Regions from separate parts of the Homo sapiens genome. Here regions 2 and 3 are each linked to region 1. Evidence: fine-mapped expression QTL. A gene starts in region 1. Each other region holds a variant in brackets. All regions are shown on one strand. Distances are between the middles of the regions.

Region 1 (10,815 bases):
ACCTGTATACATAATGAAAAATAAGCAAACTATAGCCATATTTAATAGCATAGATGAATCTTAGAAATATAATATTGAGTGAAAAAAGTAACATAAAATATTCCAGTTTTCATAAAACTCAAAAACAAAAAATAAAACAAATAATTCTGGAATACTTATATCTATTGTAAGAATATATTCAATAAGTAAGGGAATTTAAAAAAAATACTCAGAATATGGGTTACTACCAAATTAAAGTGGGGTAAGGTTAGGGAAAAATTCATAAAAAGCTTCAAAAATCTTGAGTAATAGCCTAGTTTTTAGCTGGTGAATTAATGGGTGTTCATGTTATCATTATGCTTGGTAATTTCCATGCTCTGTATCTATATTTATCTACATATGTGTGTGTTAATACCACATATTTCATAATTAAAAGAATTTAAATAAAATAAATTGATTCTCAACAAAAGCAAAAGAGTTCAACAGGAAAAGGAAAGTCCTTTTTACAAATGGTGCTGGAAAAAGATATTCATATAAAAAAATAATAACCTCAACTTCTACTGATACATCCACAAAAATCTAAGATGGAACATAGGCTTAAGCGTAAAAGGTAAAACTGTTAGTCTTCTAATTGAAAACATAAGCGAATATCTTTACAACCTTAGGCTAGGCAAAGATTTCTTAGACACAATAGAACAAAGCACTAGCCACAAAAGACAATTTTGACAAAGTAGACTTCATCAAAATTAAAAACATCTGCATATCCAAAGGCACCCCTGAGAAAATAAAAATTCGAGTTAAAGGGAAATATTATTTACATCTGTCTGTATATACATATGACATTATGTATATATATGACCTTTTAAAATCAAACATATGTGTGTCTGTATATAATTGACCTGTATTCGGAGTCTATAAAGAAATACCACAATTCAATAATAAAACAAGCCAATACATAAATAGGTAAAAGTCACAAACATATTTTCACACAAGGCATGAAAATAATAAGCACATGAAAAAGTTCTTAATATCATTAATTGGGGGAAATGCAAATGAAAATCACAATGACAAACCTTTAACTTCTACAATGGCTAAAATTTAAATGACTGGCAGTAACAAGTGTTGAGAATGTGGAAGTGGAGCTTTGCTATATTGCTAGTGGGAGCGTAAAATGGCAAAAGAATTTTGGAAAATATTTGGAAAACTTTTCTAAAGTTAAAAATATCCCTAACTTATGACTCAGAAATTCCACTCTTTAACCAAGAAAAATGAAAACATTTGTCCATAAAAAAAAACACTGTATGAGTATGTTCATAGGAACTGTACTCTTAATAGCTAAAAACCAGAAGCAATGCAAATGTCCCATAAGTGAATCAATTAACATATTTGTACCATGAAATTCTATTTAACAAAAATGGAACAAACATGTCAAAACATGGATATACTCAAAAACATAAAGTTTATGAAAGAAGCAGACACAAAAGAGTTCATACTGTATGACTCCATTTAAATGTAATTCCAGAACTATAGTTCTAAACTATAGTATTAATAAAAAAATCAGAAGATAGTACTGTAGATGGGGGAGAGGGGTTGAATAAGCAGAGAAACAGAGGAACTTTCTGTAGTGGTAGAAATATTCTCTATCTCGATTGTGGTGGTAGTGGTTTTATGGATGAGTACATGCATCAAAACTCATTAAATTGGCCACTTAAAATCAATGTGTTTTAATATGTATCAAATTTTATCTCACACAAAATAAAACAGCTTATGAGAAGATAAACACTGCTATACATTTTCAAAGCATCAAACGTAACTAGAAAATTGTAAACATTTCAGACAGAAAAAACTGATTCTGCTATCAACAAGTTAAAGTGAGACTGGCATTCTCATCAGCAATAATGAAAGTCAGAAGAGAGCCTGGTGCAGTGGCTTGTGCCTGTGATCCCAGATACTTGAGAGGCTGAGGTGGGAGGATCACGTGAGGTCAGGAGTTTCAGACCAGACTGAGCAACACAGTGAGACTCCAGCTCAAAAAAAAGGAAAAAAAAAAAGTTAGAAGACATGGAAGGATTGAGAGTTGAAGGAAAATACTTTTGATTCTATATACAGCCAAATTATCAGTCATAAGAGCAAATTATAATTTACAGCTATACGAACATTAAAAAATAAAATTACCTTTCACTTGCCTTTTGTGAGCAAGTTTCCTTAGGATATATTCCAGGGAAATAGGGGGAAGCCCAATAACAGAAGATGAGGGGCTAAGAAACAATGTTATTTACCCAAGAATGAATATAAGCCCAGGATAGGAGCAATACAAAAGGACTAGAATGCAATCTGTTCAAATTAAACAGAAAGCCATTGGGCTTTAAGGGGAAAATCTTCAAACAGAGGAATGGAAGCTTGCTTCTATGTGCATCATACAAAGAATGAGAAGATTCAGTGAAGAAAGCACATCCACCTACCTATTCCCCAGGAGAAAGCAGAAAGGCAATTAAGAAAGTGGGGACGGTTAAAAACTATGTATTACATACTCCAAAATATAAAGCATGCTCAACTACAGCATATTTTGCCCTTGGCAGGAAAGAAATAAAAACCCATTTGACCTTGATATCATAAATAATCTCCTTAGTATGGCACAGGGATCATGAAGTTAAAACTCTGGGGAAAAAAACATATCAGAGCATACAGCTTGGACTTGCTCTAAGTAACAACTATAAAGCCATAATACTGTAAACATTTTATTTTTTTTATTGGTTTTTGGCACGTGAATAAAGCGCAAATGTTATAGTTAAGAAATATATTACTAACTTTGACAATGTACAAGTAAATGTCCAGCTAAGAGAAAGTGGGCATAAATGTAGTTTCTGAAGTGATAAAGAAAAAGGTAGAATCACTACTTTTCTCGTTTTACCAAACAAGGAGTCAAATATATTTTCAAAAGTTGATGTGAAAAAAGTAGTTTACGTATATTATTTTGAATTATAAAGTAACCAATACAAAAACTAAAAATTATGATTATGACTCTTCCAAAATTCAGAGGAGATTGTGAATGGTGTGGGCTATTTCTAGAAGTCAACGGAAAAAGAATTAGCAGTTCAACTTAGGGCTATCTCAAGAAGTCAACAAAAAGAATTAACAGTTTAACTTATTATTTAACCTACAGACCTAAAATTAGAAAAGGTTAAAAGTGGTTATCTTTGAAGAACAGTACTGAGAGTAGGACAGGTGAGACAGTTGCACTTTATTATTCAATCCTACTACGCTATACTACTTGATTTTTTTTTTTTTTTTTTTTTTTTTTGAGACAGAGTCTCACTCTGTCATCAAGGCTGGAGTGCAGTGGCATGATCTCGGCTCACTGCATCCTTCCACCTCCCGGGTTCAAGCGATTCTGTGCCTCAGCCTCCAGAGTGGCTGGGATTACAGGCGCCCGCCACCACGCCCGGCTAATTTTTGTATTTTTAGTAGAGACGGGGTTTCACCATCCTGGCCAGGCTGGTCTTGAACTCCTGACCTCAGGTGATCCACCCGCCTCGACCTCCCAAAGTGCTAGGACTACAGGCGTGAGCCACCGCGCCCGACCATTTTATTTTCAATCAGATGTCTTTATCATCACATAGCTGAAAATAAAATAACCAAATAAAACACAATGATCGAAAAAGATAAAACACTAATTAGCATAATCAGTGTTCTTTTTCCACTACCTCTTAAATGGTTGTACATAAAAAGGCTCACACACAAAAATACACACACATACATTCACTTACACCTCGTGAGTGGAAGAAAACTACCGGGGGAAAAAAAACGTAGAGATGAGAGATTAGATGAGGGAAACAGCAGTGCAAGCAGTTGGGCTTGAAAATTCATTCATTCAACAAATATTTTGAAGCCCCTATTTTAAGTCAGTTGTTTTTCCAGCTGGTGGGCAAAGGATAATGAACAAGTCAGACTCTGTGCCCTCAAAGAACTTAGAGTTTTAAACGACTCGAATGGGGAAAGAAAGTAAAAAATAGGGCAAAAGACGCCGATTTTATCATGAATAAAATTTCACATTTCTTCAACAGGAAAATGATACTAATTCATTTATTTTATATATACATTCTCTCAAGAGGTTATTTTTGTCTCAAATAGATAGAAACCAGGACAGGGATCCTTGAAAAGCAGCCACTGACAATCCTCAAGTAACTTCCTTCCTCTGCTTCACTTTCTCCTACTGCTCAAGGGGGTGTTACACTTTGACGACTGACTAAACCTCGAGGGCCAGAAACAAACCAAAGCAAAATTCTGCCTCCAAGGTGAGTAATGGAGGGGCGGATTCTAGATTCTCTAACCTCCTTTAGCCTTCCTTTGAGGCAGTGACAGAGCGATTACTAAGCCTACGGTTCCCAAACGACTCAGGTGAACCTGATTTACAGGAAAGGCGGGCTGTAGCTAGGGATGGAGACAGTACCTATCAGCAAGCGGCTCCACAGCTCGGTTCTCTATCTATTCTGAAGACATGCGGGGCCACTCACTGCTCCTGATAGTCCTCTACCTCCCACAGACCCCACCCACTACGACACGGAAAACTGGATTACCCAAATACCTGCCTCTGAGTCTGGGGACGCAGGCAAGCACAAAGACAAGGGGGATGGAGCTTCTACACAGGGCCCCAGCGCTGTCGCTGTGGCTGCTGCTGCCGCTACGGCTTAGTGCACCAGACGCTGCATTTCAGGTGCTCCTACAAAAGAGGCCACTCCTGGAACGCCGGGAGCTCAGACGCTGCCCTTTGCTCGCGAGCCAAGTCAGCCAAGGTTAACCTTCGCGGAACCCGGCGAGGAGCGCAAGCCTGGCCTTCCCCAAACACAGATCCGAGCTTTTCACCCTCTACCCTCCCCTCAGCCTGGCCTTTTCTTCCGCCCTCACAGCCACCGCGACCCAACGCTGAGGAAAGACCCCGACTTGTGGTGTCCTTCCCCTTGCCCAAACTGGCCACGAAAGGACATATAGCGAGAGAGAAAGAGGTGCGGGGGGACGGGGGGGGTCGATTGAAAATACTGGGTGAGGGAATGGAAGACGAGGAGCGTGGTATGGCAGGTTAATGGGACTGAGCACAGGAAGAGGAAGAAAGAATTGAGGGTTGAATCTGTAGAACACTCAGGCTTTCAGCAAGGACACCTCATTGGGTCCTTTCTCACTGCTATAGTACGCGGGTGGCTGGACCTACATGCTTCCTGCTGTGGCTGTCTCGGAACCCGTGGTCCTCCGCTTCATGTGAGTGACGTCGTGGCGGGTCACTCACTCGGGGATCGCCGATTGCGATCGTAGGGGTCTTCCTTCTCTAACTTGCCTCCAGGAGAGAGGACCTGGCCTGCGCTGCTAATGGGTAGTCCGTTCGCAGCAGGACCAGCCCTGGCCTAAGGAAACAGGAAAGAGTTTGAGACTTCCTTCTAAAGGAGCCACGTTTGAGAAATGGGATGCAGGCCTAAGTTAAGAATGCTACAGAAAAATATCGATCCCTAAGCGTATTTACTGTTATGTGAATGTGTGTGTCAAAGGACTTAGGTGCTTTGGGGGAGAGGAGGGTGAAGACAGGAATTTATTCATTGAGCGAATAGTTATTAAGCGCCCACTCTATTCCAGACACCGTTCTAGGCATTAGGTGAACAGCAGTGAACAAAACAGACGGAAATCTGTGTCTACTTGTAGCTCACATTTTAGAGAGGAAGGCACATACTAAGCAAAGTAATTAGAAACATACTGTATTTTAGGTCGTGATAGTCCTGAAGAGAAACGTAAAGCAGGGAAGAAGGGTATAAAGTGACACAGGAAGGTCTTGCTGAAAAGATGACTTTTAAGTAAAGGGCTGACAGAAGTGGGAGATTTAACCACGCGAATATCTTGGGAAAGTGCAGTCAGACAGAGGGACCAGCCATTGCAGAGGTCATGAAGCAGAAACGTGCTAGAATAGCAAGGAGGCCTGTAGGGCAGAGTTGAGTGAAGGGTTTAGTCCTTCACTGGAGATTAAATCAAGGCGAGCAGGTCATGAAGATCTTGAGGACATCTAACTTTTATTCTAAATGAAATAGGACTTTGGAGCGTTTTGAGCAGTAGAGTGATGGGCTCTGACTTCCTTTTAAGAGGGTCACTCTTTAAGGAAAATACACAGAGGAGGACGTGGTAGGAGAAAGGAGACCAATAAGAAGAGTTTTGCAATAATCCAGAGGAAGCATAATGGTGGTTTGACTATGGGTGGTAAGAAATGGCCAGTTATATTCTTGATGCACTTAATTTGGATATGTAAGAGTATTATAGATGACAGGGTTAATTTTATTTAATTAGGCTTTGGAGGACACTTGAAAAATGAATTCCAGTGTGAGTTTCAGAGTGGCAAACACAAGTTAAAATCATGGCTTTGCTATGTGGTACTTGAAGGGATTCAGATAAGTCATGTAATTTTCCTGGATCTGTCTATAAAATGGAAATCACATCTGTCAAGATTGCAAAGGTTAGGGTATATTATAGGTATTTAATGACAAGGTATGTAATGGGTCTAGTCTGCAAATCTTAACCAGGTAAAAGATGGCCTTATTGTGAGGTAAGAGGGTCATGGGAGGCCAAGGCATACTCCTTTTTAAATTTTATGGACTCTGTACTGGGGAGGAAAGTTTTTGTGTTAATGACGATGGTATTTAGAAATGCATGGACTGGCCTCTCATAGCTGTCCACCCTATAGTCATTCCTTATAGCCATCCTTTAAACCCTCCAGGACCCCCTATGTCCTCATCAGTAAAGGGAAAGCAGGCTGTCTGGTAAGGGAAATAGGAACTTCCATAAAAAAGCAATTTTAGATATTCTTTTTATAGGTTTTGGCAAAGGTTGATAAAAGACCTAGGGAATTACTGCTGGTTGCTGCGCTTACATATTTTGAGTGTCTTCAGATGCATTGTTCTCAGTGTATTTAATTTTCTTCTTTAAATTCTGACTTTTGACACATATGATTTAAATCCTAGCAGGAATTTTCACCTAGTGCTAAAAGGTACCACATTGCTTTACACTATAATAAGGACGGTCTTTCAGTGTGGGGTATTTTATGTATACTATAATATTTTTACATATCCAGTAATTAGATTGTGTAGCAAATCAGGGAAAGAAGTTGGAAGGCAAGAATAGGAATGAAGGGAGGAGAAGAAAGGAAGAAAATGATTAAAATTACTATATTCCATCAATTCTGAGATACACATTTTTCTCTTACTTAACATCTCTGAAATAGGGATGTATTTTTAAGTTGTTGACATCTTTAAATCACTGTAGATGAATTGGCAGTTGTGAGATATTTGTCATTGCCCACACTTACACCCACTTAGTCATAACTTAATCTTGTCATTATTTCAGTTGAGTTATATATGCACTATTGGCATATAGTTGTTGAGTGTAATTTCCCTTTTAAAGATCATTTAGAAGATTATGATTAGCATTAGAATGAAAAGTTACTGTGTATGTGGGGAAACAAAGGGTGATACAAGATAAAAATCCAGGGTTAAATTTAAAAGAAGTCTGTCAATAAATAATATAGGATGTGTCTAAGTAATAAGAAAGCATTGGGTCAGTTGATTCAATAGTGTTTTTTTTCATAATGTACATAAAATAATAGAGCTTCTTGGGATTGAAGCCATTTTACAATTGATGGCATTTTAGATTTCTTGTATAGTATTTAAAGCTTCCAACAAAAATGTAAATTTTTACCTACTGTAATTCTGAAATAGGGAAATTAGAGGTTTTGAGTAGAGACACTTTCAAATTTGTGTAGCGTTCCTATATAGCATAAGAATTCTAAAATTAAAAGTCTGCCTGTAAAACTTTGATTTCAAAGTAGTAACTTACTTATGTTTGATTCCCAATGTTGTCATCGTGGGGCAGAGATTTTGCTTTTTCAAAAAGATTGCAGGCAATTTAGATGGTGTGGGTGGGGAGGACTACTGAGGAAATTGCTCAGTAAACAAAAATGATAGTGAAGATCTCAGAATCTCAAAAATCATCTTTTGTGTGTGTATTTTAATGATTAAGATGTACTATAAATTCATGTACAGTATTTGGGATTCTGCATTAGAGGCATCGTATGATTAATGGCTTTTTAGGTTTGATGAAGTATGATAATTAACATTGAGAAGGACAAAATTAATGTGAAGGGACAGAATGATTTAGATAATATGTTTCAAAAGCTTTTGTCCTAAAAAATGCATTATTACCATTTTAATTTAGTAAAGGAAAAAGAAAAGGTCTTGATCCTCACCAAACACAATTAACATACTTGGTCTACAGTTTTCTGTGCTTCTCTCTTCATAAATGTTTTATATTTTCAATTACTGTGCATGTCATTCTTATATCTATTTTAATCTCACAGTCTTAATTTTTTTACATTTTAGTCCAGAGACTTAAACTAGCATTTCCTAAACTGTTTTAGAGAATACTAGTTCAAATAAATGTTAATAGCTGTTCCTGTGTTAGGATTCTGTCATTAAATATATTGGAAAATGCTTCGTAATTATATCCTTTAGAGAAATTATAGCTAGAGCATTAAAAGAGCTAACTGCAGCATCAGACAGACCTGAGTTTCAATCCTCGTTTACTATGTATTACATGAGGCAAATTAATTTTAATTCAAGTTTTCTTCTCTGTATAATGGAGATTATTACAGTATTCGAAATTGACTTGTGTAAAGCATTTAGCCAGCCATAGCGCATGTTCTACAAATATATGTAGTTGTTATTATCATCTATGAGAAACTTTATACATATTAGAAACTCTGAGGATTTAAAATTTTGAAGGTTGACTTATACTCAATGTAAAATTGAAAAATCACAGGGGAGTAATTAGCATAGAGATTAATGAAATGAGCACTGGGTTGAATGGTAAAAGATTTGTTTGAGCTTTAAGCAGTATTGTTGTTAAACTATCACTGTGCCCTAAGCGTAACATTATTTTAAAAATGTCTTCAACTGTGTTTCCCCCATTTGTCTGAAAGCTTAGTTAGTTCAAAGAACATGTTTATTTTTGTTCTCTACTATAAACCCAGCACATGACACAAAATCAGGGAGTGTAAAGTTGGGGTCATGAACTTATTTTAGGAGCCTGGTAGGTAATATAAATGGCAGACAACAGGGAGTAGTAAAGTGTCTGTCTGTCTTACTTAAAGACATTCACATCAGTTATTTCCAACACTGTTAGCCCTGGAAAAGAAAGCTATCCCTGAACTTTGTCAGGCTAGTTTGTGATCCCTAGAAAAGATTAGTGATTAAGACCAAACCCTGAAGAACAGCATCATTAATGGGACAGATTAAAAAAAAAAGGAGCCCTGAAAGGAGGTGACAAGGAAGTAGGAGGTGAAATCAGGTACAAGTAATTTTTTAAATTAAGAAAAGTATAGCCCTCTCCCTCTCCCTCTCCCTCTCCGCACCGTCTCCCTCTGATGCCGAGCCGAGGCTGGACTGTACTGCCACCATCTTGACTCACTGCAACCTCCCTGCCTGATTCTCCTGCCTCAGTCTGCCGAGTTCCTGGGATTGCAGGTGCGCGCCGCCACTCCTGACTGGTTTTTGTATTTTTTGGTGGAGACGGGGTTTCACCGTGTTGGCCGGGCTGGTCTCCAGCTCCTGACCGCGAGTGATCTGCCAGCCTCGGCGTCCTGAGGTGCCGGGATTGCAGACGGAGTCTCGCTCACTCAGTGCTCAATGTTGCCCATGCTGGAGTGCAGTGGCGTGATCTTGGCTCGCTACAACCTCCACCTCCCAGCCGCCTGCCTTGGCCTCCCAAAGTGCCGAGATTGCAGCCTCTGCCCGGCCGCCACCCCGTCTAGGAAGTGAGGAGCGTCTTTGCCTGGCCGCCCATCGTCGGGGATGTGAGGAGCCCCTCTGCCCGGCCGCCCAGTCTGGGAAGTGAGGAGCACCTCTTCCCGGCCGTCATCCTGTCTAGGAAGTGAGGAGCGTCTCTGCCCAGCCGCCCATCATCTGGGATGTGGGGAGCATCTCTGCCCCGTCGCCCCGTCTGAGATGTGAAGAGCGCCTCTGCCCGGCCGCGACCCTGTCTGGGAACTGAGGAGTGTCTCTGCCCCGCCGCCACCCCGTCTGGGAGGTGAGGAGCGTCTCTGACCGGCTGCCCGGTCTGAGAAGTGAGGAGCCCCTCCGCCCGGCAGCCGCCCCGTCTGGGAAGTGAGGAGCGTTTCCGCTTTCCGCCCGGCAGCGGCCCCGTCCGGGAGGTGGGGGGCAGCCCCCGCCCGGCCGGCGCCCCGTCTGGGAGGTGGAGGGCGCCTCTGCCCGGCCGCCCCATCTGGGAAGTGAGGAGCCCCTCTGCCCGGCCGCCACCCCGTCTGGGAGGTGTACCCAACAGCTCATTGAGAACGGGCCATGATGACGATGGCAGTTTTGTCGAATAGAAAAGGGGGAAATGTGGGGAAAAGAAAGAGAGATCAGATTGTTACTGTGTCTGTGTGGAAAGAAGTAGACATAGGAGACTCCATTTTGTTCTGTACTAAGAAAAATTCTTCTGCCTTGGGATGCTGTTAATCTATAACCTTACCCCCAACCCCGTGCTCTCTGAAACATGTGCTGTGTCCACTAAGGGTTAAATGGCCCCTGCTCTCTGAAACATGTGCTGTGTCCGCTAAGGGTTAAATGGCCCGTGCTCTCTGAAACGTGCTGTGTCCACTAAGGGTTAAATGGATTAAGGGCGGTGCAAGATGTGCTTTGTTAAACAGATGCTTGAAGGCAGCATGCTCCTTAAGAGTTATCACCACTCCCTAATCTCAAGTACCCAGGGACAAACACTGCAGAAGGCGGCAGGGCCCTCTGCCTAGGAAAA
Region 2 (5,000 bases), 140 kb before region 1:
ATGATAAGTTATTAGAAAAAATGTCAGTAAAAAAAACAATGTATATATTAATCAGCATATTTATGACTGGATTGATGGAAATATTTGGTATAATTTGCTTATATATATTTGTAAATGTATCTACTTATGTTTTCATGTGTGTCTTTTACTTGGAATTATCTACATATACATATGTATATATTTCAGAGTATCATTATTTAAATGCCACAGAATAGAACACATCTCCTTATTTAAAAATCTGCCAAATTTATGCTGATGTTTCCACTTTTCCAATGTGAAACAAAAGTTATAGGGGGAGAATACAATTTGGGAATAGGTAGACAAAAGATTTAGAAGATGTTGATTGCTGATTCAGAATGAATTCTAGTAAAGTGAACTGACAGTTTTACTGCCATTAAATAAGATATAAAATTATCAGAAAAAATTTTTCAGAATCTCAATTCAGCATTTCTCAATTTTTTTTTTCCTGTTTTTGAGATAGAGTCTTGTTCTGTCTCCTAGGCTGGAGTGCAGTGGTGCAATCACGGCTCACTGCAACCTTGGCCTCCCAGGTTCAAGCAATTCTCGTGCCTCAGCCTTCCTAGAAGCTGGGATTACAGGCCTATGCCACAACACCCGGCTAATTTTTTGTATTTTTAGTAGACATGGGGTTTCGCCATGTTGCCCAGGCTGTTCTTGAATTCCTGACCTCAGGCAATCCACCTGCCTCGGCCTCCCAAAATTCTAGGGTTACAGGGATCATCCACCATGCCCAACTAGCATTTCTCCATTCTTTAATAATCTCTTGAGTTAAATGAAGAAAGGTTTTAAAGTTTAATCAAGTAAGGTTTAAATGCACTTGACTAAAAGATAAAATAGAAACACTTTCATATTAGATTTCCTTTTGTTTCTCATGTTTGAAATGTAAGCATCTTTAATGCAGAGGTAATATACATAGAAAGGTTACTACAACTCTATATTGTTTGTGTTTTGGATGAGACTGTATCTCTTTAGGAGGCCAACAGTCCTGATGAGAAGTTAGCCAGTCCTCTATGGCGAAAGTAGAAAGATCACAGAAAGGCGGAGAAATTCAAGAAGTTGACTGTGATGGAGTTTAGCACTGACTAGTTTTTATCTTTCCATATTTCTAAAAGTACAAATGGCATATATTCTCATTTCCTCTGTAAAAGTCCAAGTGTCGGGCTCAGGCAGGCAATGGAGAAAAATATATTACATGTCAGAAAGTGGTAAGTTCTTTTTTTCTCCCCCTCTTTTTGAAATGAAGGGCTTGTAAGGGGAAAAGGAAATAGGCATTAAGTAAATTCTGTGGATAGTGCATGAGTAATCATTTAGAGTTATCTGCTGTGGTAAGGTGAAGAAATCTGGAAGAGGGAAAAAGAAGGTAACACTGACCATCTATTATGTGACAGGTATTGTATACTTTCACTTAATCCATTTAATTCTTACAATGATTTTATTAAAGACAGGTATCGTAATTCTTCTTCCCACCTTCTATTTCTGCTAAAGACAAAGAAACTAAGACACAAGGAAGTTAAGTGATTTGTTAAGTATGTTACTATGAGTAGAAGTCTGAAGTTACTATAAGGTTATAAGGCATCTTTTGTTACTTCCTAACTTAGATTTGGAATATGAAAAGATAGTCTGATAAGACCAGTTACTCAATTAGGCATTCCTTAGTGATGTTTACCAACTTCACAGCTCATTACTTCCATGGCTACAAAAAGAGGTCAGATTTCATCACCTCATATGCTATTCCTAATATAAAAACTATAAAACAGAGTGAAACAAGCTTTGAGGCATGGGCCTATTTATTTGGGCAATGGATAATATAGTGAAGCTCTCTAACAATATCAACTTGTTATTTCACAAAGAAAATACAAACACAAACTAGAAGAAAAATCAAGGTTTAAGACAGGTTTCTCTAGCCTGTTTAAGAAAAAAGAGATAGCACAATTCATTTTAGAAAACTTTCAATTCAAATAGTTAAGATAAAAATTTGGCAGCTAATGAGAGAAAATACTCAACCATCTAAAGTCTGTCTACTTAACACAGTTTAGTTTCCAAAGGAAAGGGTTTCAGTCCATAGATTTTGTATTTGCAGGGCTCAAATCAATTTGACACATCTGTCACCAGCAAAGTTTGAAGGTGAGTCAGTGATCTAGAGTAAAGGTTGTAGTGCAGTCCTTCAATCACTGGCATTGGAAAAGTTATTTTTATCTGCTTCCAAGACATCCCATCAACACCATAAAAGGTTTACAGTGAATCTTGATGATGTACTGGCATCCATCCCGATTCTACCCTGATGGTTAGTTCTAACAGATATCTCATTTTCCATTTCACTTGACTCATGTCACCTCTCATCTCAAAACCCTTCCAAAGCACATTATCATAATCAAAATATAATGCAAAAGTACTTTGTGAAGTGTACATTAAAATGCACAATTACTCCTACAAAGTAATCTCTCATTACATGGCACTACTGTTTTTTAACCTTGCATTATAATTATTGAGACAATGCATTGTGAATAAAACATGGATTATGGTTTCCCAGGTTTGAATTAAAGCTCCATGAGGTATTTTGCAACTCTGGGTAAAATAACTTCTCTAAATCTATTAATTTCTTCATTGGCACCCATTAGTATTAGATCTTTCAGAAATACTGAACTATTTTCAATATGATAAACACAACCATTTGGGCAAGGATAGATGGAAAAGACAGCTTTCCTGAGCCTGCTCTTCTCTCACTTTAATGGCTATAAATTCCTTCTGAAATTTATTGCATAGCTATTGTCCTGGAACTTCTCTTTACCATTATCCAATTCTCTTAGGCTATCCCCTATATTTGATTCCTAACTTTTTGGGTAAGACATTATTTACCACTCTTTCATATTTACTTCTCATTTTGATGAAACACATTATCCAGCAGCTACAAAGAAAGAGTACACAGGAGGTAAACTATTCAAAAACCTTCAATGAATATCATTAATCTGCCCTTGACTGATAGTTTGACCAGATACAGCATTCTAGGGTTGAATTTTTTTCTTCTGAGTTATTAAAGGTAGAGCTCCAATGTCTGCTGCTGA[G/C]AAGTCTGATAAAATTCTGATTTAGGATTATTTGTACATGATTTTCTGTTTCTCTGTTAAGTTTTAGGATCCCTGTATTATGAAATTTCATGGTGATATACTTACGCATATACTTCATTGTGCTGGGCATTTGGTGGATCCCTGAGTAGTCCTTCAGTTACACAAAAAGTATGTTTTTGATGTTTGTGATAATTTGTTTCTTTTTAAATCTTCTATTCTATAAGAATCTTGAACTTCCTGAATTTAATTTCTAATAATTTTGTCATTTTGTTCTTACTTTCCACGTGTATTTTTGTTTCATACTCTGTGAGATTTCCTAAATTTTATCATCTTACATTTTCATCACAAACATCATTGCATTTCTATATCAATTTCAATTTCCAGGCCAGGCACGGTGGCTCATGCCTATAATCCTAGCACTTTGGGAGGCCAAGGTAGGAGGATCACTTGAGGCCAGGAGTTTGAGACCAGCCTGGCCAACATGGTGAAACCCTGTCTCTACTAAACAAAAATACAAAAATTAGCCAAATGTGGTGGAGTGCACCTGTAACCCCAGCTACTTAGGAGGCTGAGACACGAGAATTGCTTGAACCTGGGAGGTGAAGGCTGCAGTGAGCAGTGATCACGCCTGTATCACGCTTGTACTCCAGCCTGGCTACAGAGCAAGACTCTCTCAAAAAAAAAAAAAAGAAAAAAAAATCAATTTCCAGATTTTCAACAATTTTCATTGTTATGTTTAAAAGTTCTGTTTTTTCATAGTTAATTTTCTCATAGTTATCTTTCTGAATAAATTATTTTTTCAGTTTATACTATTCTGTATCTTAATTGGAAGCTTTCCTCAGAGATTTTGTGATCTTTGATTCTACATATTTACAAGAACAGCACCAAAAATCAGATTGAATTTTTTTTTTTTTTTTTTTATGTGGGCTGGGGTTAGTGACTGGTGGATTAACTATAAGGTAATTTGGGGACATGGTTATTTTGTTAGAAGACTCCTAAGTAAGATATTTCTCCTTCTGGGAACATTGAGTTTTTCCAGATAATTCTCTGATCTTCTAAGCTCATCCTTGCCAGCCTTCCCAGATATGACCATAGGAGGGGCCTGTATAACTATATACATTCACTCACTCCTGCTCTCTGCTATGCCTATTGGCTCTGAGTCTCAAGACTCAGTGACTCTACTACTCCAGAGAATGCCTCTCCATATTTACCATTAAAATGGTCACTTTTGTAAAATTTGACAAAGTAAAAATATTTCAACCACAACAATGAAGAATGCTGCCTCTTTCTACACCAAATTCTCTCCATTATACTTCCTTGATATTGGGCAACATTACAATGGCTGTGCATGCTCTACATATAACTAAGAGTAAGCTGAACATATTTACTTTGGTTTAATAGGTCATATTTTTGTTATCTGAAGTAACTTCTGGGTATTGACAAAGATGCTCTCCTTAACCAAAGTCTAGCCAGGCTCCTTAGAGCCCTTTTTTGACTAGGGTCCAAACTTTGCCTATAAAGACTTGAACAAAACATGAAGATGGCTTGGTTTTTCTACTTTACTGTTATTTTTAAATTAATACATAAAATTGTACATAGTTTATGTATTAATTAAATATGGAATACATGTGATATTTTGCTATATGCATACAATGTGTAATGATCAAAACAGGGTAATCAGAACATCTACCAATTCGAATATTTATTTTCTTATGTTGGGAACATTTTAAATCTAGCTATTTTGAAATATATAACAAATTATTGTTAACTATAGTCATCCTACTGTGCTGTCTATTGAACAACAGAGCTTATTCCTTCGGTCTAACTGTATTTTGTATCCATTAACCAACCTCTCTCTTCATCCCCATCCCCCAGCCCATTCTTCTTAGCCTCTAGCAACTATCAATCTACTCTCAA
Region 3 (10,815 bases), 38 kb after region 1:
TAAAAACTATTGGTCTTTTGTTAAAAGCCCATAATGTAGCATCATCAGTAGCTCATTTGTGCTGAAATTTATGACGACTTACTACAAAAGAGTACATTCCAAAAATGTCACATTTGTCTTTCTCAAGTACTATATTATGCCTTACCAAATTATAACAAATGTCCATGCTTCCCTCCATAATTCCCACAGGTCTTTACCATGTAAAAATCCATGCTAAAGAGTGCTAAAGAGAGAAAGAAGTGGAGAATTAATCAGTGATTTTTCAAGTTGTATGAAAGCATTGACCAAGTTATCCATTCAGCCCTATTCAGTACTTGTTTTCACAGAAAACTTAATTCTGTTTTATTTGTATTGCTGGGATGGGAGAGCTCTTACGGAATCAACAAAGAAATAGCATTGTTGGCAAACTGGACATAACACTTCAGCATCTGATGTATTCTGGTTTTTAAGGATTTCAACGATAGGGGGTAGTGTTTGGTGGGAGGATCACTTTGAGCCCAGGAGAGCAAGGCTGCAGTGTGCTGTGATTGCACCACTGCACTCCAAACTAGGCTACAGAGTTGAGACCCTGTCTCAAAAAAAAAAAAAAAAAAAAAAAAAAAAAAAAAAAAAAAAAAAAATCTTAGTTGGGGAGCACCTCGCTGTTTCTTATAACTGGGCATTAAAATGGCCTGAGTATACCTCCTCAATTTTTCAGAGAAATGATACGTCCTTTTAAAATATAAAAGTATCAGAAGTATATAACATTAGCCATGTATTTCACCTACATAAATAGTGACACAAGTCCTGATTCTAAGTGCTATCCAGCAGTATGAAAATTACAACTTTATCACCAAGATGCAAAATAAAAAGAACTAGGAAGGGCAAATTAGTATGCTCAACAGGCAATAATGTTGCAAATTGCTGTCTCATGGAGAAAGCTCTACCCTCCAAAATTTTAGTTAAGGAATAATCATGCCTTCTCTAACAAATGTAAGGGTGATATATTAATAATACATGTCTACTGTCATGGATTTTATTACAGAATTACTATTAAGATTGTTATTGCCTTCTAACTAGTCTTTTCATGTGTTTTATCCACCCCTTAAAAGCTCCTTTTGAGGTAGATCAGCCATTTTACCCCAAAGAGTCAACAGAAAAGTTAAATAAATGCCCCATACAAAGTTGAAACCTGGTTTAATTTTTTTCAGTTCTTACTGATCCTGTGTTCTCCAATACATCATGCTTTCTTAACATGTTAGTTAAATGGTCATGTGGTTTCTTTTATTTGAATGAAAAGTTTAGCTTTACTTTAAATGTTAGAGAAAAATAGTGACATAAAAATACCTAAATTTGAGTAGTTTATGATTAGCTCCTTTAGTGGAATACTTAAGAGATTCTAAAGGGAGAGTTGAGATTATTAAACACTCTTTGGAGTGGTTATGAAGAGAATTTATCAATTTTTTTTCTTTTTACTATTCAAATATATAGGGAGAATTCACTTGGCAAAACCAAGCTGCTGCTGCTGGTAGCAGTTGCCTTTTTGAAGAGGTTTATACCATGATTCTTTGAATAGTGCGCTGTTATTGAGGGCACTGAATGTGTAATGACAGTCCATCCCAAAAGCCAACATGATAGATGTCACTAAGTTCCATACAGATAGATAATTTAAAACAGAAACATAGGTATACTCCATTGTGATACTACTTATAACCCCAAAATTTGCAATAATGATGAAAAGGATAGTTGCTGATGGCTAATATGCCTCTGTACAAAACTGAATCATCTTCAGGTACCAACTTGTTGGAATTAGAAAGAGTCACTTCACATTATTTTGCATTGTACTTTGTATAGTTATGGTTTTTCCTTTGAGTAAATCTTGGCAGAGATAACTCATAGGAGTATAACTCCATAAAAATATTTGGAGGAAGGACCCAGAACAATGAAATAATTGTTGGTGTGAAAGTGAGCCATCTGGAATTTCAGAGTGTGAACTAATTATTGTATATTGTATTTTTTCACCCTTATGTATTTGGGTTTTTTTTTCCCCTTCCTTTCTAACTTCCACCTATCCTAACACACACTATTCCCAATTCTCTAGATGTTTAAGTACAAAAACGTGTGTAAGTATGATTTTTGTCTTCATCAACATCATTTCCTATCTGGCAGGCTGTTGGCCTTAGCAACAGGAGCAGAAACAAGCCTGAGACCCAATAATTGCAAGAAAGAAAAATCCTTTTTAATGAAGCGTTAACTACTCTTGCCCTTCCCATTGCTACATAATGCCTACAGAATTGTTCAAATAGCCATTGTTAATGTCTTATTTCCTCAATGGCCTTTTTGTGATGAACCTTCATATTAAGGCTGCTCTGACAAAGTTTTACATTTGTTTTTGTAAATTGCCTCATTAGAATATCATGCATCCCAGCAGAGAAATGCACCCAATATATATGTGCACTTTGGTTTTCAGATTGCATATTTGGCTGATACTTGTTCATTTAAAATCCCTCAAATTTTCACACCTGGGGAATTTGGAAAGAACAGTGCAAGAGTCATCCAAAATCAACACCACAACTGTATTTCTCTTTGAAAAAGATTAATGAAAAATGCAAACTAAAAGTCACTTTCAATAAGTTTAGCAAAAGGGAATGATTTCAGTAGAAATAACTTTTTTCGAAAACTTTCAGTTTTCCTATAAAAGGATAACATTTTTGTGTTAAAACTGCACATACATTGAAAACAAAAACAAAAACTTTTCAGATACTTTTGGAGAGATTTGTTTTGAAAACAAAGTTGGAGTGAGAATCTGGGAAATAGCAATGCCACATAAAAGCATTAGCTTTATGTAAAAGAAGTACAGTATATCTGAAAATCAGTAGAATAGAAAATCTAAGAAAAATTTTAATATAAAAAATATAGATAAACATAGCTTTAAAAAAGAAAGTCTTTGAAAATGCTGTTTGAGGTGATGTATCTAGAGGAACAAGCCTGGCAAGAGTCAGAGCTGATAGATTGCAGGGGTAATCACTGGTGACCCCACATTGAATGCACTAATGAGACTTTAACACTAGCTGCACAAAAACATCAGATACACTGTCTTCCAATCCTCTAAAATACTCAAAGCACTTTCAAATTAAGCTTTAGTAGAGATTTTTGGTGTCTGGATGAGAACAGCATACAGATTAGGCATCTAGAGGGACATGAGAAAATATTGCAAATAATAGACTCTCATAGGAAAGGTGGCAGGGTACAAAAGATGAACTTGCTGGACATCGCTTATTTTACTTAAAGTAATCCTAGTCTCATGGTTCTTTAGATGCGTAGGGGCAGAAAGATGTGATACCTTTCCTTACCCATCTTAAGAGTCAAAGCTGACACTCCTGTAACAAAAGACAAGAGAAAAACATAAGTGTATTTAATCCAAGTTTTACATGATACACGAGCCCTCAGAAATGAAGACCAAAAGACTCAGGGAAAGCTGTCTATTTTGTGCCTAGGATTGCTGAAGAATGGACAGCCATATAGCAATGTAATTGGATAAAAGAGAAAGTGCTAAACTGTAATAGACTGGTCAGGGAAACCCAGCAAGGCCATCCAGATTCTTCTTGGTGTCTGTAGCATGCCTTCCCCTGGGTATGGGGCAGGACCCTTCTGGAATGAGGGTCATCAAGGGAGAAGGGAGACAGTGACCTTTCTAAGTTTTATGGCTTGCTTTCAGGATAAGAAATTCTGGTTTCTGTGACTTTCTTCAAGGGGAAAAAGAGGTGGAACATAGGAGGGCAGGAGAAGGACAGAAAGACCTTGCCTCTGAAGCTCCTCCAATCTCCTTCAGTTCAAAGTACTCAGCATGCCAAGGTCTCGTATTTGGAATATGGTCTTTTGAGCCCCCAACAGCTGCAAGTTGTAATTACCTCCAGAACAGATGAGTTTATTCAATGAATATGCACACACTGTCATCCAGAAAAAGCTGAACAAACCAGCCTCAAATGGAGAACAGCAGCAAGACGTTCACTTCAGTGCCTTAACATTCATATAATCCAACATCCCCATTACCAACTAACAAAATATTTCCCTACACCCACTATGCTGATTCTTATGAAAAGCTAGGATTGCTATTGCATAATGGTACACAGAAGAGTATGTCTAGAATTTAATGCTTCATGGATATTATACTAGAATTCAGAGTATATTGGGAAAACACACTAACCAGAAAGATGGGAAAAGATGAAGAGGAAGGAAAACAGTGGTAAGATATGGACCTTCTACTATTTGTATATTGAATTAAAAGAGCTAATGATAAACTACCAGGATATATGCAATGTAAGTTATAAGAAAGGACTCTTGAAACAAAAGGGACAACCTGCAAGGGGGAGTCTTGAATTAAATAATTAAATATCTGAGCACAATCTAGTAATATGGTGAAAGGAAAAGCATTCCAAAGTCCACTTTTCTGGGGAGGATAGGAGAAAGAGAACTAGGGCGGAAATGGAAGTATTGTAAGGGTCTTATTTTAATAGTAGGAAATTCTTGGTAAGGGAAATAGTTCATACTGTGTCATCAGGCAATAGCAGAGAAGTATGTACATGATTGTGAAATCAGGGGCAAGAAAATAATCTTTAATGAGGGTGAATTAGAATAGAACTTCCAAATTATCAAGGGGAAATATTGAATTAATAGCAATGTTATCAAGGTAGCAAAACTAAGGAAAAGAAAAAATACAATAAATACACTAATATAAAATAATAAACATAATGTAATATTCTGTGTCCTTGTAAAGGAAGATTTAATATCATGGGGTGTCATTTACCATACACACACACACACACACACACACACACACACACACACAAAATATTTTTTTTTTAATTTAGGAAAAACAATCTAAGAACATGTATGAATGAATGCCTGAGTATAACCAGAAAATATTTTGAAAAAAGAAAACAAGTTTGACCTCCTAGATATCAAGGAATGATATAAAATTATTACAATTAAATCACTTTGGTATTGAGAACAATATAAATAAAATAGGTAACAGAATAGGATTAAAAATACAGGATAAATCCAGAAATAGATCCAGGATATACGTTTCAGTCTCTATATCTAGCTACCTACCTACCATATAAGTAGTAAAAGGATGAATTTATAAATAGAACAAATACAACTGGTTACTCATCTGAAAGGAAGTAAAACTAAAACCAGCTATATCATGTACACGGAAATATATGACTATAAAAAATTTCACAAATTTAGTTTGGCAAAACTTACCATACAAAGTTAAAGGACAAATAATAGATTTGAAAAAACAATTGTTACTCAGAGGACAGACAGAGGGTTAATATCTGTAACATACATAGAGCTCTTCCAATTTGCCAAACAAAAAGTAATCCAATAGAAAAAGAAATGACAAAAGGACAAAGGATGTGAAGAGCCAATTCATAAAAGACTAAGTCTAAATTACCAAAATGCTTACACAAAAATGTTCCAAATACAGAAAATCGTTCCAATTGGGAAATGCAAATAAAGTAACAGTGGGCTGTGGTTTTACATTTATTCAACTTGTTAACAATAGGTGTTCAAGATGATAACACCCATTGATGGGGAGAAAACAACTCACGTTGTTGGAAATCAAGTTTATCACAATATTTTTACAAAGAATCTGTTAAGATATATTAAATGTAT[ATATACTTT/A]TATACTTTTATATATATACTCTTGGGAATATAACTTACAGAAAAATAGTATTAACTAAAAATATATGTACAAGAATAGTTGCTTGAGCATTGCTTTGGGTGACAGAAAACTGGAAAGCTCATCAACAGAGGAGCAGTTGCATAAATTGTTACATAAACACTGTGAAATGTTTTGCAGCCTTTAAAAAGAATGAATTTGGGCTATATTTTAGGTTTGGAAAAATTTAAATGAGGTGGTGTTGAGACAGCCAAGTAAAAAGGGCTCCTGGAGAATCTCCAACTGGCCTGCACACAGAGAGGACAAGGTGGAGCCGCGGGAAGTTCTTGTTGTTTGCAGAGAGGAGGAGCCTAGCCTCTCCTGTCACTGGGTGGTAACCTGGGATTCAATTGGTGAGATGGGGTCCCATTAACAGGAACCCCTCTCACTTTGCTGAGCTTTTTTTCGTTTTTCACCCAATAAATTCCGTTTTTCTCACCCTTCTATGTGTCCATGAGCCTAATCTTTCTTGGTCGTGTGACAAGAACCCAGTTTTTAGCTGAAACGAGGAGAAAGTCCTACAACCGTGTTAAAGTGAAAGAAAAATATATTATGAAGAGTGTAATACAAAAACTTGTTTTTAAGTTGAAAAGCCCTGTATATTTTTATGTGTTTATATGTGCTGTGTGGGGATGATTACCTGGACATGAAGAAAAATAGAAACAGTGGACACCAGGCTTTTGGTTGGCATCAGTTATCTGTAATGGGCAGATTTGCAAGGAGAAGAGGAGAGAGGTAAAGGCAAAGCAAAAAAGCCACATAAGACTGCTAAAAGAAAATAAAGTATGTAATACTACCACATTTAAGTATTTATGTGGAAATGTCTGTGTGTGTATATACACACATGTATACACAGTAGGAACACCTTATCCAGAGGGAATATGTTCCAAGGCCCTAATGGATGCCTGAAGCCAAAGAGAGTACTGAGCCCTAAACATACTATGTTTTCCTATATGTACATTCCTGTGATAAAGTTTAGTTTTTAAATTAGACACAGTAGGAGATTGACAAGAATAACTAAAAATAAACTAGAACAATTACAACAATATACTGTAATAAAAGTTATGTGAATGTGGTCTCTCTCTTAAGAAATCTTATTTATGTAATATTTCCAGATTGCAATTGACCACAGGTAACTGAAACCACAGAAAGTGAAATCACAGATAAGGGGTGATACTGTATATGCAAATATAAAAATAAATAATTCAGGGAAGAATATCACAGAAATCCTCTTTGACTAAAAGCACCTCTCTATTAATCATCAATATCAGGCCAGCCTCACAGAGCTTAAATCCTTAATGTTCTGCACCATATATACTTCCTGAAATGAACTAGTTTTTGTTTTCTAGAAAAGTTAACTGACAACACATAAATGAAGCATATGAAGAACTTAACACCTGAATTCTTTTCCATTCTCCTTTTCTCCACCAGTCACCATTGTTTCAACTTCTTAGCATCAAGTCTCTTTCTCTGTCCCAAGCCCCAACAACCCGTGGGGCAAGTGTCAGTTCTCACTGCACTTCCAAACTCTGCCCCATTGTTGAGTCTCCCACTTCTCAGTCCAGGGCCCACAGCATAGGAGCAAGAGGTCATGCAAAGAAATAAGTGAGATGTTGTTTTAAGTTGGAATCTGTATTATGCTTTCCTATAGAAACATTTTATAAATCTAGCACAAATTCAAACGTGTACTGGAGTTCACATAATATTGTGCATTAAAGTAGGCTTTTGAAGACTACTCTGGGAGAATAACCACCGGCTTATAAGAACAAACTGTAAATTGGGAACTATCTTTGTGAAAAAATTTTATAAATTATGAAGTTCATATACAAATATTTATGAAAGTGATCTAATTTTGACTTGCTGGTGGACTTCACTCTTATCACTGATTGGAATTATTTTCCTTCAATTTTCACTGCTACCATTGGGACCATCCTGAAGCTCTCCACTAAACCATAGTGGCCAACCTTCAAAGGTAGAAGGTCTTTAGTGAAGGCTTTATTCATAGTCAATTATCACAATTGTTATACTCATTTTTGCTAAAGGGCTTGCTCTGAGTTTTTACCAAATGTTTCCAAACTGAAATAGAAACCACAGGTTACAAGGAAGTGGAAAAGAAAATTAACATATTTTAAGCAACTACCATGTGCCATGGCATTTAATCATTACAATAACTATGAGTAGGTATTCCAAAGAAGGAAACAGACTCTGACAAGTTTAAACAATTTTTCTTTTCTGGCATCAAGTAAGCAGTGGAGCTAGTTCCTTTTTAATGGATAATAACTAATTATTTTTAACTTTTATTTAAATATAGCATATACAAGTAGTTTATAAATCACAAGTGTTTGTTGTTGCATTTTCACAAAGTGAACAAATCCTGTGAAACCAGGCTCCAAATCAAGAGAACAAAAGAACATGACCAGAATCTCAGAAGCCACATCAAGTGTAACCTTTCACTCACAATCTCCTCCCCAAGGTTAACCACTCTCCCAATTTCCAGCACTTCTACCATCAGAGTAGTTTAGATTACATTTGTTTTACTGTTTTTGAACTTTCTGCACATGGAATCATGGAGTATGTACTCTTTTATGTCTGGCTTATTTTTCAACATTATGTTTGGGCAATTCACTGGTATCGTTACATATAGTTGAGCTTGCTTATTCTAATTACTTATTCTAATATCCCACTGTGGGAATATACCACAATTTACTTAACCATTCTAATATTAATAGACATTTGAATAGTCTGTATGTTTAGCTTTTGAATAGTAGTTCCATGAACATTATTGTGCATACATGTCTTCTAGTACACAAATGTACACATTTATGTTGGGTATACACTTAGGAGTGTAATTGCTATGTCATGGGATTTGCATTAGAAATCTTGAATCATTGATGTTCTTTTTAACTTCTAGTTTTCCAAAGTGGTTATACCAATGTACACTCTCACCAGCAGCATATCAGAATACTTATGGTCCACATTCATGTCAATAAAGGCATTCTTTGTAGCTAGGTTTCTGACTCCAATACCCAATGCTCCTTTCCTTTCACCTAAATTTTATTTAAATGTAAGAACTTGGTAACAGTTCTCTTTTATAAATTCCATGATTCTTTCTAAGATTTTCATTCTTTGTTCATTGAGTGATTTTCCTTTTTTGTACTGGAAAACGTATTTGTGCTGAATAGAATTTAGCAGCGTTTTCAGGGTATCAGAGGCCTCATGTAAATATTTATCTTCAGTAAGCCCAGCCTCTTCTATTTTTTCTGCATGGGTAAAAAGAATGGCTGTGTAATTCATCCAAGCATGTCCAAGAAGTTCCTGAAAGAGAGAAGTTAGATAACTATTGAACTTGAACTATATTCCTCAAAAATGAGCAAAGGATTTATTACGGTCCAATATAGATAGCCAGCAGATCCATATTATTATGTTTCTGAAAGCTGATATACAATGTAGGAAATGAAGACAGGGTCAAGTATTTTAAGTAAATGGAGGGAAAAGGCTTGACTTTCTGAAAAAGGCAGGATTAAACAGAGAATTAAATTCTCTCTTTTATTTTACTATGATAATTGATATATACACAACCTCAAAACTGCATATTATCATTGCTGCATAGATTTCTCAACATTCAGTAATCATTTATACTTGTCTGACTACCTGAGTCCATTAAAGCCACTGAATTTAAGTCGGAGGACCTTAGTCAAGGGAATTGTTTTATCTTTTACTTTTATCATTATCATTAAAAGCATCTACTAAAGATATAAAATTACATAATCTGTTAAGAATCTATTGATTAATCAGGTGACATGTAATGGAAAAGCTCAGATAAAAATACATTTGGTGATTTGGACGAACCACAAAATATTATAACTGTGAGTCTCATCTTCTTGACTTCACATGCTTAGAATGGAACCCAATTTATCTGATGACTTCCTCTAATGTGGTTGAAAAACATTGAAGACTGGCATTCCTTTGTTTAGTAATATGTGGAAGTTGGTTATGTAATAAATTCTTGTTTGATTAGTGAATATAAGCTGATATAAAGCAGAAGTAACAGCATGTGGCAAATTGTTCATGTAATATAAAAGGCATCTAGAAATAACCCTTGAACTTTTTGGGATATTTCTAAAGTTACATGAAATCACAATGTGACAACAAAATAACATTACCTCCATTCCGAACACTCCTATTACCAAAATATTTCCAAAGCTACTACTAGTTTATGGCAAGAAAAATACAAAATGCCTAGGAATAAACATAATAAGAAACACCCAAGACCTCTAATAATCAGAAGAAAGAAAGAAAGGAGAAAAACTAACATTTAGTGCCAGATATTATGCTAAGCACTTTACATGCGTTACCTCTTTTGAAGCTTAATGCAATTATTTGTGGGAGATACTATTATTATCTCCATTATGATATTGGCAAACTGACTTATAAAGACTTTGAGTTATATGTATTAGTACAAACTCTGGTTTTAAAAAATTATTGAAAATATTGAAAGACAGTCTGGGAAATCATTTTCAATGTACCTAAAAAATACAGGATTAGAATTTATAATATGGAAAAATTGAAAACAAAGAAAAAAGAAGAAGGAAATAAGAAAGAAAACAGAAAAGGAAGAAAGGAGAAAGGAAGGAAGGAAGGCAAGCAGGAGTAAGGAAAGAAGGAATCTGGATAGGTAAATCTAACATGAAAATACTCGTGAGAACTACGGGACAAAACATTTAAAATTAGAAACATCACAATCATGGTCACCAATTACAACTGATACAGTCTGGCTTTTATCAGATTCATTTATTTATACATCAATTTCTACAACTTCATAGTGAACTCTTTGAAGGCAAGATTCATGTCTTTCCATATCAATCAAAGCTTTTAGCACATTGTAAACTTTCAGTAAACATCTGTTAAATTAATTTGGAATTTAGACCCTCATTGTCATCTCAAATAGAAGTCTTAGGGTTCTATTTATTTCTTTTGAGGTTTTGGTTTTGAAGTATAATTAATCTTTGTAAAGCTTCTTTTTTTTGCAGTTTATCATCATGAATTTGCCTGTAGTCTGGACTATTTTCTATTCAGAGGGACTCTTTCAAGGAATAGGCCCAAACTTTTTCT

Evidence for each region.
Region 2: its variant is fine-mapped to the expression of TBCK in whole blood (INTERVAL, PIP 0.99).
Region 3: its variant is fine-mapped to the expression of TBCK in whole blood (TOPMed, PIP above 0.99).

Annotation. Positions count from the first base shown.
Region 1 is chr4:106,311,363-106,322,177 of GRCh38, forward strand. TBCK (TBC1 domain containing kinase) reads right to left here and starts at 4,847. Exons shown (of 26, transcript NM_001163435.3): 1 at 4,569-4,847. It overlaps AIMP1 (aminoacyl tRNA synthetase complex interacting multifunctional protein 1), which reads left to right and starts at 5,188. Exons shown (of 7, transcript NM_001142416.2): 1 at 5,188-5,232. RefSeq lists enhancers at 4,427-4,516, 4,597-4,656, 5,147-5,396.
Region 2 is chr4:106,171,375-106,176,374 of GRCh38, forward strand. All of the region lies in intron 22 of TBCK (TBC1 domain containing kinase), which reads right to left. Among named protein-coding and RNA genes, the nearest start is that of TBCK, 140 kb to the right of the region's middle. The variant G/C (reference allele first, on the strand shown) is at 3,084.
Region 3 is chr4:106,349,426-106,360,240 of GRCh38, forward strand. AIMP1 (aminoacyl tRNA synthetase complex interacting multifunctional protein 1) reads left to right here. Exons shown (of 7, transcript NM_001142416.2): 7 at 1-31. It overlaps GIMD1 (GIMAP family P-loop NTPase domain containing 1), which reads right to left. Exons shown (of 3, transcript NM_001195138.2): 3 at 7,967-9,018. The coding sequence ends at 8,758. Among named protein-coding and RNA genes, the nearest start is that of GIMD1, 14 kb to the right of the region's middle. The variant ATATACTTT/A (reference allele first, on the strand shown) is at 5,659.